Linked DNA regions of Homo sapiens. The protein of the gene in region 1 purifies or fractionates together with the protein of each later gene. This does not show direct contact. Each region holds a gene or a part of one and is shown on either strand. Other genes may lie near its edges.

Region 1 (7,727 bases):
ATGTCAGATTAAACACCTCCTCCTAATAACTGCTAACAACTGATGCCCCTGTAGTCCAGGCATTTATTACATCAGCCCTTGATTACTATAACAGCTTCTTAAGCCAGCATCTCTGCTTGTAGCCTCCTCACTTCTCAACTAATCCTGCAGAATATTCTTTATAAGCTACTGTCTCTGCTTTTGTTATATCATTCTCCTGCTTTAAAAACCTAAAATGATTCCCCAGTGCCTGCCCCATCAAGCTAAATGTCTTTCCTTGGCTTCCAAGGCCCCCTATAATTTAGGCCCACTTCATTTAGCCAACTTTATTTTCCTTCTGCTACACACACAGCCTGATTTAATCAGGCAGCTCTCCAATTACTGCCGCATATGCTATGCTTCCCCCTGCTGGAAACATCCTGCTCAAAATCCTCCGCTTACTCAAATTCTACCATTAGCTGAGTTTCAGCTCAGGTCCTACTTCTCTACCAAGCTTTCTCACTACTCTAACACACACTGAGCCTTCCTTTATCACTCCTCCTAATCAGGACCACTTGTGGGAACACGGGAACACTTTTAAATCAGCCAGTCTTTTCTTTTTCTTTTCTTTTTTTTTTGAGACAGGGTCTCTCTCTCTCTGTCACCCAGGCTGAGTGTAGTGGTGGGATCACAGCTCACTGGAGCCTCAACCTCCTGGGCTCAAGCGATCCTCCACCCTAGCCACCCAGGTAGCTGGGACCACAGGCACACGCCACCACACCTGGCTTTTTTTTTTTTTTTTTTTTTGTAGAGACAAAGTCTTAATATGTTGCCCAGGCTAGTCTTGAACTCCCTGGCTCAAGTGATCAGCCTGCCTCGGCCACCCAAAGTGCTGGGATTACAGGCATGAGCTACCATTCTCGACCTAAATCAGGCACTCTTAACCACAGGGATCTACATATGGGTTCAGGGACTATGTTCCATATGCAAAGTTTACTGTGTACTTTTTCTTTTTTGAGAGGGAGTCTAAAGTTTTCCTCACACTGTCAGAAGAGATTTATGAACCCTCTACTCCCTCAAACAAAAACGCAAACAACAACAACAAAATCAGACTGAGCTCAATGTTTTCCAATTTTTCCATGTAACTCGGGAATAGCATTTAGCTTTGTCTCCCCAGCTCATTCTTAGGCTACTTGAAAGTGAGGGGCATATCTTATACTAGCTCTGAAAGGCAAAACAGGGCACAAAGATAAACTGATAAGATAGCCAATAACCATTTGCTTTAGTTATACTCTCAAACTAAGAGATTAGTAAAAAGAACACTAGGATTTGATTTCCAAGTCTCATTCTGCAATACCTCCCAAATTTTACGTGAGCTTATTTACTTCTGGTTCTTTCGAATAGGATCTTTTGACATCCTTAAGTCCAAATGAGTTATTAATCCCCAGGTCTAGGCAACTAAAGCCCATCTACCTGTTTCTGGGGTCAGAATGAAACACTATCTGCAAAGAGCTAAGCTACTACAAATACCACATTAACTCAATCTCAACGGGCAGGGGGAGAAAGAAGAGAATTATATCCCTAACAAAATTAAAATCTCGACCACGTGCGGTGGCTCACGCCTGTAATCCCAGCACTTTGGGAGGCTGAGGTGGGTGGATCGTGAGGTCAGGATTTCGAGACCATCCTGGCCAACATGGAGAAACCCTGTCTCTACTAAAAATACAAAGATTAGCCGGGCGTGGTGGCACGCACCTGTAATCTCAGTTACTCAGGAGGCTGAGGCAGGAGAATTGCTTGAACCTGGGAGGCGGAGGTTGCAGTAAGCCGAGATCAGGCCACTGCACTCCAGCCTGGGCGACAGAGCGAGACTCCAGCTCAAAATAATAAAATAAAATAAAATCTCTACACTCTATATCTTCAAAATATTTTAACACGCATTTCAGTTCTGGGAATTACTAGAATGGCCTAATTGCCAATGCTTCCCAAGTTCATTTTGACCTGAAATTGTCTTAAAATAACAGCAAATGTTGACTTTAGTCTCCCCTTATCCACGGTTTTTGCTTTCCCTGGTTTCAGTTACCCATGGTCAATTGAGCTCTGAAAATATTCAATGGAGAATTCCAAAAGTAATCAATTCATAGGTTTTAAAATGTACGCCATTCTGAGTAGCATGATTAAATCTCTTGCTGTCCCGCTCTGCACAACCAGGAACATGAATCATCCCTTTGTCCAGTATATCAACGTTGTCTACACTATCCATCCGTTAGTCACTTAGTAGCCATGTCAGTTATCAGATCAAAAAAAAAAAAAAAACATAGCATTTCCTGTATAGGGTTTAGTAGTAACTGCAGTTTTAGGCATCTACGGGAGATCTTAGAATGATACCCCCTGAGTGTAATGAGGGACTACTACACCTTTAACTAATCATCATTTACTTTTCAATCAAAATCCAACCTAAATGATAAAAAGATTTGAACAAGAGGCATTTCTCCTAGTCTCAGGTTACTTAACTTTTACACATTTAAAATAGCTATTAGTAGCCAGGCACAGTGGTGCATGCCTGTAGTCCCAGCTATTCAGGAGGCTGTGAGGCATGAGGATCGCTTGAATCCAGGAGTTCAAAACCAGCCTAGGCAACATAGTGAGACACCCCCCCCAACCCCCGATCTTGAAAATAAAGTAGCTATTAGTAAAGCATTTTCTCATTCATCAAACCTTTGTTTCATGCACACTACTGAATGAAATCAATAATAGTTAAGTATATGAATTCTGCAGGTCAATAGACTGCTTCAAACACCAGCTCGCCCACTTACCAGACTGTGTGATGTTTGGAAAAGTCATTTAATCTTATCAAGCCTCATTTCCTTTACCTGTAAAAATGAAACAACATCTACTTCCCAGGGTTGCTGTTAAGAATTAAGTGAGATGCTGCAGGTAACACACTAGGTGTGTTACTGTATACTAGGAGATATATATATATATATACACACACACACACACTAGGATATATATATATATATATACACACACACTAGGATATATATATACATATATACTAGGATATGTGTGTATATATATACTAGGATATATGTGTATATATATATATACATATATACTAGGATATACATATATATGTATATATATACACATATATATGTATACTAGGATATATATAGTAAGGTGACTTACTGTATACTAGGATAATACCTGGTATACAGTAAGTCACTCAAGCAATGACAGCAAATATCATCAGTATGTTGGATGGTGTCATATGTGCCATGCATGGGGTCAGTGGGAGGGTTATAAAGACATGAAGTTTCCATGCTAGTTAGGAAGACAGACATTCATAACAATTTTAAAATTGTTTACATTTTTATCATTAATAAAAAGCAAGAGAACATAACACAAATCCATTCTTAAGGTTACCTTTATCTTCAGCATCAGGAAATGTTGTGTTATCACCAGTGTTGTAGGAAAATGAGACGCTGTCAATTGAATAAGTAGATGCTGCCTTGGTAAAATTCGCAATCCAGGAAAAGCCAGGTCCGAACTGCACTGCTATTTTGGGACCATTCTGATCATCCCCACAAATGCTTCCATTATATGTCACAGTGCCATGGTCTGAAATGGTTACAGTTTTCTAAAAGAAATAGAAATTTGGGGGTGAGAAACAAACAGGCAGCAAGGAACACCAAGCATTTATGTAGGGCATGCCACTTCAGCCTAAATCATACATTCTCCATGGCCAGGTTGCCCTTTGCCTGGTTTGCTGTGTAAACCAGTCCCTGATTCTTCTGCTACATACCACTCCTCTGGATAAATTCGTGTATGTCTAAAAAGAAAAGGAAAACTGGCTTGAGCTGCTGTTCTTAAACTGATTTTTTAAAAAATTAGGTTGTAAGTAGTGAGGACCTTAACAAAAAGAAAATAAGAAGGCAAAGGAATTAAGAGGAGATGTCAAAAAGGGGGAGATTTTAGTGTTAGGTTGGTGCAAAAGTAATTGCAGTTTGTGCCAAAAAAAAAAATCGCTTACTTAGGTTGGTGCAAAAGTAATTGTGGTTTGTTCCTTTAATGGCAATTACTTTTGTACCAACCTAAGTAAGCGATTTTTTTTTTTTTTGAGATAGAGTCTCGCTCTGTTGCCCAGGCTGGAGTGCAGTAGCACAATCATGGCTCACTGCAGACTCAACCTCCTGAGCTCAAGCAATCCTCCAGCCTCGGCCCAGCGAGTGGCTGGAGGTACATGTGTGTGCCACCATGCCTGGCTAATTTTTAAAGTTTTTTTGTAGAGATGAGGTCTCACCATGTTGCCCGGGCTGGGTTCAAGCAATCCTCCTGCTTTGGCCTTCCAAAATGCTGGGATCACAGGCATGAGCCACCATGCCCAGATGGGAAGCTGCTTTTTAAAAGGGCAAGCTTTGGTGCTAGTACATTTTAAACACTTTACAGAAATACTTAGACCTGAACACCATATAGTCGTCTTCAGATCATTTGCCCTTAATCAAGTCCTACAAAAACTCCCAAGAACCAATGAATCAGAAGAAATATTCATTCTAACACTAAACAGAATAACTTCTGAGTGTGTATGCTTAAAAAAAATCCCAGAGTTTCAGCATTAAGTCAGTCAACGTGGAATTTCATTTGTATACGTGTATCTAAAGGATAAAGTCAATTAAATTCCTACTATAAAACTCAAAGAAAAATTAAAATATATACTTACATAAGTTTTATTTGTAGTTTCATAGCGTACTGTGAAATTCATCTGCCATTTTGCATAAAGGCAAGTGGCATTTTCTGAATCTGTCAAATTAAGTTCCAATGCATAAGACCGCACAGCTCCTGGATTCATTTAAAAAAATAATATTTTAAAATTGTACTACAAAAATTATATAAATTAAAAACAAGCTCTACCCACCACTGAAGTTCAACCAGCTCTAAAATGAAACAAAAGTATTTTATATCTATATATACACATACATATATATACATATATGTGTATATACATATATGTATGTGTATAGATACAGTATCCTGCTGACTGTTTTTCTTTGTATTTTTAACAGAATCCTATTGATAAAAAAGTTGGCATTATCCCTTACCAAAAGAATGGTTACTAGACCTAGGATGCTTAGGTCATGGCTCAGACTGGTGACATTTATTTGCCTTTTGCCTTCAAATAATCATTTCCACATGCATTTATACCTTACTAGTTTTGTTTTAGGCAATTACAGTTTGCCTGTTAGGACTTGTGGTTTTTGCGGTAAATGAGGTAAGAGGAAGCCTGGTAGGGGTGTAAAACTTCTCTCAAACCAGCTGGTGAAACATTCACTGCAAAAATAATGATAGATCCGATATTCTACCATCTTTTTGCTTTAAATCCTGTTGCAAGCTACATAATCTATGACACACGGATGTCTTCCCAAACGATTTTATTCTGATGTGATCAGATACTCTTTCTATCATGTAACCAAGGAAGCAGAGTTGCAAAGGGCTGTTAAATCCATGAGAAAAACATGAATTCTGATAAATGCAAAGTTCATCACTGTTTCACTTTAAAATCGAATTGATTAGAAAGGCTGATGAATTTTTTGACGCAAAGTTATTTCCTAAATTTTCAACCTGCTACCTCTTTAGGCAGAGAAATGTTACAGAGACAGAAAAGCCTTGGAACTTTTCAGCTAACATGGTGGATCTTCTACACTTAAACATAGAAACATTATCTATTAAACTGAAGAGCCCAAGGACTCAAAATACTAATTCAGAGGAGAAAAAATATCCCAGCAAACATGCCAGCAGCATAAATATTGGGCAACCATTTAAGGGATTTTCTTCACTGTATCACACATTACCCAAAGGGTAAGCTGTTTCCTGTTAAGATACTTGCATACTCTTTAATAATATCTGAGCAATCCACTGTCATCTACAGGTACAGACTTGCTATAGACTAGAGAAAAGTGCTAAGAGGAATATCAAGAAGGTATGCCTCAGCAACAGCTTTCAAGTTGTATAGAAGAGCCTATCGTCATGCTCTGGAGACCTGGCTGCTTTGCAAGCCAGAATATTATACTAAAGCTTGTGGTTACTGACAGTGACTAAATGCATTGGCTAAGGCTCAAAAAGACCTTGTGAGGCCTAAGTAGGTTTTATGATCATTCTTTTCTAAGTACAATACGGAAGGGAGCTGTTATACTTACTGATCCAAGGCTCCCTGCCATGGAGCCAAGAGCTCCAACTTACAATTTTAATGAACTGGAGGTTTGCTTTTTATATGCAGTCTTTTCTCGGTCTTGTTTAAGGTCTCTAGCTTTAGTATATTATTCTCCTTGTATTCAAAACATTCAAAAGTATTGAAAATTACCAAGAAAAGCCTCACATGTATTAATCATTTTCTTTCCAAATATATTAGAATAACAGGAAGAAGACCATGTAAAATAGTAATAGCATCGATAGCTTGCATCAATGTGTCTTAGGGTGTGAGAACTGACGTTTTATGAAACAAAAGGTAGAGGTTGTGGTTCAAACGTATCACTTAAAATTAAATTCAAGATAGTATACCTGGTGGCCCGTAAACAAGAGCTGAGAAACACCCTGAGGGTTCTGGCACACTCTGTTCCATTCCCTTCACAGCCTTTCTGCCTGAGTGCAATTCTTTCCACTTCTTGGTCCCCAACTCTAACTGCACAGGGACCACTTTTACTCAATATCTCTCACCTCAAACTCAGCAATTCCCAAACTAAAATTCATTCTTCTGCTTCCTCCAAACTGGGTCCCTCCTCAGCTTTGCTAGCTCTAAATGAAGAGTGGGATCAGTCACTCAAGCTCAGTTTCAGAAATAGCCTCTACTTCTTTCTCTTCAAGAAGTCCTATTGATTTTTTTCCTTCAAATCTTCTCTTAAATACAATCTTTGTCTTTTATTTCTACTCCCAATCTATCACCCCACACCTAAATTATGACAGAAAATGCCTAGATACCCCTAGAAGTGCTGCCAGATTAATAATCCTTAAGTACCATTTCCTTTTAGGACACTTTCTTGTTCAAAAACTTTTACTGGCTCCAACATTCCCATATGAAATTTAAATTCCTCTGCCTGACTTTCAAAGTAATCTTTAATCTTGTCCCATCCTATTCCTTCAACTTTTCTCAAACTATTTTCCCAGAGCACACCCTTTAATCCAGTTAAACTTGTTTCCACTGGGCTCAAATGCCATACTCTATTCAACCTCTACCCTGGGCTTCTATTGTTCCTAACACTTGAAATCTACTTTCTTCTATTGGCCTAAATGCTCACCTCAAAGATGGATTTTGCTCGCTTTTTGGCTGCCCCAAATCTGAAACACCCCTTGTCCCCTTGTTACAATTTCTGGCAGAAATCACCACCCACTATAAAAGCTGAAAACACTGGATACTTGCTTTCCCAGACTCCCTTGCAGTAAGGAGGACCACTTGTGCTAGGCTCTGCCTAACAAAGGTATCCACCCCACACTTTGAAAGGAGGGCTGCAAATGGAGCCAGGAATGGAACAGGGAGGGAGACAGGTGTGGAGTAACAGAAGCAGGATCAAGCTCCCAGGCAACAAGGCCAGCAGAGCAAGCTTCAATTTCACACTTGGCAGTGGTAGTGCAGTTCAGCAGCATGATCTGGGTTGTTGAATCCTGAACTGGGATTTGGTATATATAGCCAGGAGCACCAGAAATTCTGAGTTACCCAATATACCCCTTTAATAAACATTTGATATGTAACATATGTACAGAAACAGGCACAGTAT
Region 2 (8,031 bases), on another chromosome or scaffold:
TTTATTCAATAAATAAATAAATAAATCCATTTCAAAGGCAGATTAAAGTCAATATCAGTAAAGAGATCCTGCTTTAAAATTAACAAAAATATCAATTAAGTACCTATTGTTTGTATGCATGTTACGTTATGCCAGGCTGAATAATAGAAATCATAGTGAATAAAGGACAGATTTTGATGTTGAAAAAAAATCAATGAGATATTATTAACATTTTAATATCTGTGATCAGGAATGAGCACGGTGCCTGGAACAATGCTGATGGTGACAACACAGGAAAGATGGGGCTTCAGTCCAGCATCTTCTAATGGTGAACTGTTTGGTAGCATAGAGGTGGAAAGGTCATGGCTGACACTCCTATAACAAAAGCCAGATTAACAAGAGAAAAGCATAACAGATTTATTTATTTATTTATTTAAGAGGGAGTCTCGCTCTGTCACCCAGGCTGGAGTGCAGTGGCGCGATCTCGGCTCACTGCAACCTCTGCCTCCCGGGTTCAAGCAATTCTCCTGCCTCAGCCTCCTGAGTAGCTGGGATTACAGGTGATCTAATGACAATAGACTGAGTAGGGATAAGAATTTACAAGCATCTACTTTAATGCTTAGTACCAGGGTCAGCAAGGCCTGTTTGTTCAAAAGTCATAGAGAAACTTGGCTTTTGAGGCCTGCCAATGTGTCCTTCACTTCAAGTACTCAGCATGCAAAAGCACTATACTTGTGATATTATCCTCTTCTTTTTTTTTGTTGTTGTTGTTGAGACAGGGTCTTGCTCTGTCACACAGGCTGGAGTGCACTGGCATGATCTCGGCTCACTGCAACCTCTGCCTCCCAGGTTCAAGAAATTCTTGTGCCTCAGCCTCCTGAGTGGCTGAAACTACAGGCACGCACCACCACACCTGGTTAATTTTTGTATTTTTGATAGAGACGGGGTTTCACCATTTTGGCCAGGCTAGTTGCATTTTTAAACTTTTAAATCTGAAAAGTGTCTTGCTCTGTTGCCCAGGCTGGAGTGCAGTGGTGCAATCTCCGCTTCTGGGTTCAAACCATTCTCCTGCCTCAGCCTCCTGAGTAGCTGGGATTACAGGCGCATGCCACCATGCCTGGCTAATTTTTGTATTTTTAGTAGAAATGGGGTTTCGTCTGTTGGCCAGGCTGGTCTTGAAGTCTTAATGTCAGGTGATTCGCCCGCCTTGGCCCCCCAAAGTGCTGGGATTACAGGTGTGAGCCACTGCGCCTAGCCGATATTATCTTCTGAGCCCCAACACTAGGAAAACAGCTTCTCTCCTCCTCTCCTTACTCCTCATAAGTAAATAAACGCAAGAATCTTCACCAAAAGATCTTTAGTCATACAAAAATGAAGTGTCAGATACTTTTTAAATATAACTTATTTACAGGGCTATGCTTATATAAATTGCTTTAACAGTCATTAGAGCATTATATGGGCTGAGAACATATTTTTAATATATTATTAAAACAATGGGTCTGGCATGGTGGCTCTTGCCTGTAATCCCAGCACTTTGGGAAGCCGAGGCAGAAGAATCACTTGAGACCAGGAGTTCAAGACCAGCCTATAGTGAGACTCTGTCTTTACAAACAAAAAACAAACAAAAATGATTATGTATGTTAATAATGCCTTAATAAATCTGATTTAGACAAAAAATGACTAACATTTGCTTAGTGCTTTGTAGAGACAACATTGTATAAAGAGCATTACATGCATTATTTTATTTAATAGAAAATCTCTGGCTGGGCACAGTGGCTCACGCCTGTAATCCCAGCACTTTGGGAGGCTGAGGTGGGCAGATCACTTGAGGTCAGGAGTTCAAGACCAGCCTGGCCAACATGGTGAAACGCTGTCTCTACTAAAAATGCAAAAATTAGCCAGGCATGGTGGCTGACGCCTGTAATCTCAGCTACTTGGGAGGCTGAGGCAGGAGAATGACTTGAATCTGGGAGGCAGAGGTTGCACTGAGCCAAGATCACGCCATTGCACACCAGCCTGAGCGACAAGAGTGAAACTCTATCTCAAAACAAAACAAAACAAAACAAAAGGAAAGAAAATTTCTGTAAAAGGGAAACTAAAACTTCCCCACCTCAGCCTCCAAAGTAGCTGCTACTACAGGTGCACGTCACCACACCTAGCTAATGTTCTAATCTTTTGTAGAGACAGAGACTCACCATGTTGCCCAGGCTAGTCCCGTACTCCAGGCACCAAACAATCCTCCTGCCTTGGTGTCTCAACATGCTAGGGGCCATAGGCATGAGCCACCTTGCCCAGTCAGCTCCTAAGAACTTAAGCTAAGTGCCCAATATCACATGCTTGGTAAGATGCAGAACTCAAACCTCCATGACTAATTCTGGAGCCCTGGTCTTAACCAGTGTGCTGTCCCTGTGAAAGTACATGTCTTGGCTAGGTGCAGTGGCTCACACCTGTAATCCCTGTACTTTGGGAGACTGAGGCGGGAGGGTGGCTTGAGACCAGGAGTTTTGAGACCAGCGTGGGCAACATAACAAAGTCCCATCTTCACAAAAAGAAAAATCTTAAAAATAAGCCTGGTATGGATGTGTGAACATATAGTCCCAGATGCTTGGGAGGCTGAAGAGGGAGGATTGTTTGAGCCCAGGAGGTTGAGGCTGCAGTGAGCTATGATAGCGCCCCTGTGCTCCAGCCTGGTTAACAGAGTGAGATCCTGTGTCGAAAACAACAACAGAAAAGCATGTCTTGACATAATAATGAAATGAAATGTGTGAACCTTGATTGGATTCTGGTTACTGAAAAAGAAAAAACAGCAGCTGGGCCAGGCACAGTGGTGTATGCCTGTTATCCAAGCTACTTGGGAGGCTGAGGTGGGAGGATTGCTTGAACTCAGGAGTGTGAATCCAGCCTGGGCAACATAGCAAGACTCCATCTCAAAAACAAAACAAAACAAAATAAAACAAAAAAAGCAGCTAAAAAAGACATTTTGGAAACAACTTAGAAAATTTTTGCCATAGATTGGTTATTAGTAAACATGGAATTACTATTAGTTGTGTGTAATATTGATATTGTGGTTATGAAAGAAAATATAAAATATCCTTATTTTAGGCAACAAAGTATCTAGGAATGAAGCTTCATATTGTCTTCAATTTACTTTCAAGTAGTTCAGTTAAAAAATGGCCAGGCACGGTGGCTCACACCTGTAATCCCAGCACTTTGGGAGGCCAAGGCAGGCGGATCACAAGGTCAGGAGATCGAGACCATCCTGGCTAACACAGTGAAACCCCGTCTCTACTAAAAATACAAAAATTAGCTGGGTGTGGTGGCGGGCGCCTGTAGTCCCAGACCCTGGGGAGCCTGAGGCAGGAGAATGGCGTGAACCCGGGACGCGGAGCTTGCAGTGAGCCGAGATCGCGCCACTGCACTCCATCCAGCCTGGCGACAGAGCGGGACTCCATCTCAAAAAAAAAAAAAAAAAAAAAAGTATGTGAACACACACACCCACACACAGAGCAACCAAGACAAAAAATGAACAACTAATGAATCAAGTGTGAGGGGTACATGGATGTTCATTGTATTAATCTTTCAACATTTCTGTAGGCTTGAAAATTTTCAAAATAAAATGCAGAGAAGAAAATTTGCACGTCTAGAAAAGGCTTGTGATAAATAATTCATAGAATCTCAGGATTATGAGACCAGCCTGGGCAACATAGTGAGACCTTGTCTCTACGAGAAAAAAAAGAAAAAGAAAAAAGAAGATCACGTGGAGTCTTACACCATCTCTTCCTTCACTAACATTTGCGTAGTTTTATCTCACACATCCTAAACTGGATCACACTATACTCAATGTACAAATAAGCATTAGAATGTATGAAAGTGGGCAAGACGCGGTGGCTAAACTTGTAATCCCAGCACTTTGGGAGGCCGAGGCGGGCGAGTCACCTGACCTCAGGAGTTCCAGACCAGCCTGACCAACATGGCTAAACCCTGTCTCTACTAAAATACAAAAATAGCCAGGCTTGGTGGCACGCGCCTGTAATCCTAGCTACTCAGGGGGCTGAGGCAGGAGAATGGCTTGAACCTGGGAGCCGAGATTGCACCACTGCATTCCAGCCTGGGCGACAGAGCGAGACTCCGTCTCCGCCGCCCCACCAAAAAAATGTATGAGTGTATATATTCTAACTGATATCAAAGTTCTCTCCGGGAGCTGGTAACAGAAAATTTCTTTCCTTGTTTGCTTACATTTTTACAATCATGAGCTTTTTAGAAAATGTCATTGAAGTTTTTTCTCTTTTTGAAATTCAATTTTAAAAGAAACAAGGGCCCAGTGGCTCACGCCTGTAATCTCAGTACTTTGAGAGGCTGAGGTGGGAGAACTGGCCAGGAGGCCAAGAATTCGAGGCTGCAGTGAGCCGAGGTCGTGCTAGGGCACTCCAGCGTGGGCGACAGAGCGAGACTCTGTCTTAATAAACGAACGCCGTAAGCATTCCGAACTGCTTTGTTTCCCATTGGAGAAATCTGTAAATATGTCATGGAAATTGGAATCTTTATTCTGCTCCTGTCCCTCTGCTGGCGGAGTAGGATTTTACCGCTGGTTCTACCTAGGCGTAGAGCTGTGTCTGCAAACAACCAGGCAAGACCGAAAAAAGTTAATGTTCTTAAAATATGCAAGTGGAGCCCGAAAATAGTTAAATTCTTGGACTAGGAAGGCATCCTTAAATGCTCAAGTCTCTGGGTAAGAGCGCACCGAGGGGCTGCGGCCAGAAGCCCCAGGAACCGAGGTGGTTCAGGCGGTAGCCACCGCCCACAGTCCAGGTCTTCTGGGCCGGCACACCCCTCCCACCATCTCAGCCAATCGGAGCTAAGGGGGCGGGGATCGGGCCAGCCGGAGGCGGGGCGGACGCAGGAGGGGGTGTGTCTGGGGAGGGGCCTGGCAGGTCCCAGAAGGTGGCGAGTTTCGCGGCCAGAGGCTTACAGGTCCAGGTGGAGAGGCCGGGCTGGCCAGGGCTTCGGCCTCCGGCGTCGGGAAATGGCGGCGGGGGGCAGGATGGAGGACGTGAGTGCACGGAGGCGGCGGGCGGTTGGCCCCGGAATCCGCTTTTTCTTGTGCCGGGGCGCACGGGGCGGAGACTCAGAGAGGGAAGCCACCCTTGGCGACTGCGGCCGCGGCCGAAGGGGGCGCCGCCTGTGCCCGGGGAGGCCTGGGCGCGGGGCTTTGGGAGGGCTCCAGGCGGCTGTGGGATCCGCGACACGTTGGCTCCGGGCTAATTTTCCCAGTGGAGGCTGGGGTGGGCTCCTGGGCGGTGGGCGCGCGGCCCCCGGGGGTCCCAGGCTGGCGCCCAGCCCACGTGCGGGGTACGTCTTTGATCCCGGAACTGGCAGCTTCACGTGATGCGCGCCTGGCCTGACAGCCCTTCCTCCCCGCGAGTCTCCGGGAGCCGGGCCGATGGGTTCCGCTCGGACGTCCCAGGGGCACAGGGGGCGAATCTCCCTTCCTGGTGAGGTCCCTTGCCTTGGCTCTAGAGGCTGTGGACTTGGAGTGACAACGACGCTCGGGCCGGGCGCCAGCGTCCCGCAGACCTGTCGCTATCATGGCCTGGAAACCCACACGAGAGAAAAAGTGTCATGTGTTGTTTTGAATCTAGCATGGTAGGAATACAAAGGTTTTTAAATCTTTGATAGATTCAAACCAGATTACCAAAACAAAAACAAAAACAAAAAAACAAAAAACCAGTGGCCTAGTTTACAGCGTGTATAGTACAGAATGGTAGCATAATTACAAAAATCTTATTTCTTTGCTTCAGTATCGTAAGGTGTTTTTAGGAGAAACATGTATGTATGCTGAGAGTTAACTGGATTTTCCACTGGCAAGTAATAAAATTTTTGCTCTTGAGAAATGCAAAGTTGACAGTTACTGTAAAGCACTAATTTGGGTTAATAAATTAGTAGGAATATTACTGTGATCCTATCACTGAATGAACTGCATCAGGAAAAGGAAGAGAAACATGAAACAGTTCCAGCATTACGGTAGCTTAGATTCTTGTGCAGTAACCAGTTAAATAATCTTGATGAAATAAAGACCAAACAATTTCTAATGAAACTAAAATTTTCTATTTTTTCCAGTTGAGAAAATGGAAAATTAACTGTAAGACCTGTAAGTAGATTTGAGACTCATATATATTTAAAGCAAAATTCATTGTTTCTGAGTTTTTAAGGCTGAGCTTCATGAGCTGACAATGTACAGAAAAAACCGAATATGTAAGAGGAAAATGAGAGTGTCTTAGAAAAACACATGCAGTAAGTGCTTCTTGGTTGATGCTAAGCTGCTCTGGCGTTCTTGGATCTGTAGCTTTTAGCTTTAGGATGCATATAGTACTAGAAATCTGCTTCCTCAAACACTGGAGCCTGGGGATGGTCTGGGAGGCTCATGCCTGTAATCCCAGCACTTTGGGAGGCCGAGGCAGGCAGATAACCTGAGGTCAGGAGTTTGAGACCAGCCTGGCCAACATGGCAAAACCCCGTCTCCACTAAAAATACAAAAATTAGCCAGGTGGGGTGGTGGGGGCCTGTAATCCCAGATACTGGGGAGGCAGGAGAATCGCTTGAACCCGGAAGGCAGAGGTTGCAGTGAGCCAAGATCGCATCACTGCACTCCAGCCGGGGCAACAGAGCGACAGAGCGAGACTCTGTCTCAAAAATAAAAATAAATAAAAATTAATTAGAGATTAATGTTTTGCTACCAACCACATATTGGAGTCACTTTAGATCTGAGTAAGTTGCCTGCTTTTGGTATTTTGTAAACATGATTCCTAGCCTTCAAGAAAAAGCTAAAAATTTTGGACCATGCCTTAGTTACAGACACTTAAATGAGTTGAGTCAAAGACTTTGTGTTAGTAGGGATTCATTGTTTGCAGGCAGTGAAACCAACTGTGGCTAATTTAAGAAAAGGATGTATTCGAAAGGCTATAGGGTGAGTATATGCCAAGGCCTCTGAAAGGACCCAAACAAGGGCATCTCAAGGCATTGAAGTGACAGGAGTCCTTTCAGGGTCTACCCTGGAATGAATCTGCCTAAATCATGATCTTTCTTCTTTTTTTGTGATGGAGTTTCACCCTTGTTGCCCAGGTTGGAGTGCAATGGTACGATCTCGGCTCACTGCAACCTCCGCCTCCCGGGTTCAAGTGATTCTTCTGCCTCAGCCTCCCAAATAGCTGGGATTACAGGCATGCACCACCACACCTGGCTAATTTTGTATTTTTAGTAGAGACGGGATTTCTCCATTTTGGTCAGGCTGGTCTCAGGTGATCCATCTGCCTTGGCCTCCCAAAGTGTTGGGATTACAGGCGTGAGCCACCGTGCCCGGCCTCATGATCTTTCTTTTACTGCTCATGGAAAGAGTTGGATTCACCCAACTGTTTTTTGTTCCATGACCACTCCTAGAGCAGAGGAGGAGGAAGGGTATTGAAGGATGGTTCCACTAAGACTTAATGCAGAAGTAGACAGTGGGTCCTCAAAGGAAATAGAGTTATTGTCACAGAAGAGAGAAGAGATACCATGTGGGCAAAAACAACAGACATCTTCTACAGGTGGTAATGTAGTTAATAATGGAAATGAAAAAATCATTTGGATTCAGGAGTCCTCTTCCCCTCACCCTTCACTTGCAGATGGTGAGTTAATAGAATGACTGGGTGCTGTTTGTATGGTTACACTGCATATTTCCTATAGGATTCAATGGAAAGTAAATACTCCTGAGTGACATAGAGAAGAACCATATTATAGTCCCCAACTCCTTCAGTGTAGTTAGGAAAAACAAAAGATACACCCATGAAAAGGAAAACAATACAAGGCAGCATAAGAAATATTCCAAATGAATATTATGGGCAATAAGTTTTATAGGATTTTAAAGCAGAAGGAAAACACTTAACAAGGCCAGTTTTATAGAGAACATAAACTTGGTTAGGACCTTGAAAGATGCATAGAATTCTGAAAAAGGTAAGGGAGGATATTTGTAGGGCTCTATAGAAAGCTCATTTAGGCGAGAGAAGAAGGTGCATGAAA

What was found. Proteins that work in one complex are often made in the same cells at the same time.
Region 2: the proteins of LAMP2 (region 1) and TMEM192 purify together in Homo sapiens (affinity purification with western blotting; 5 studies listed by BioGRID and IntAct, with this or other methods). This does not show direct contact.

Annotation. Positions count from the first base shown.
Region 1 is NC_000023.11:120,451,970-120,459,696, forward strand, and holds part of LAMP2 (lysosome-associated membrane glycoprotein 2 isoform A precursor), read right to left. Parts: intron 4,801-7,727; coding exon 4,682-4,800; intron 3,602-4,681; coding exon 3,388-3,601; intron 1-3,387. UniProt on the Homo sapiens protein: Lysosomal membrane glycoprotein which plays an important role in lysosome biogenesis, lysosomal pH regulation and autophagy.
Region 2 is NC_000004.12:165,109,745-165,117,775, reverse strand, and holds the start of TMEM192 (transmembrane protein 192), read left to right. Parts: upstream 1-4,915; 5' UTR 4,916-5,002; coding exon 5,003-5,029; intron 5,030-8,031.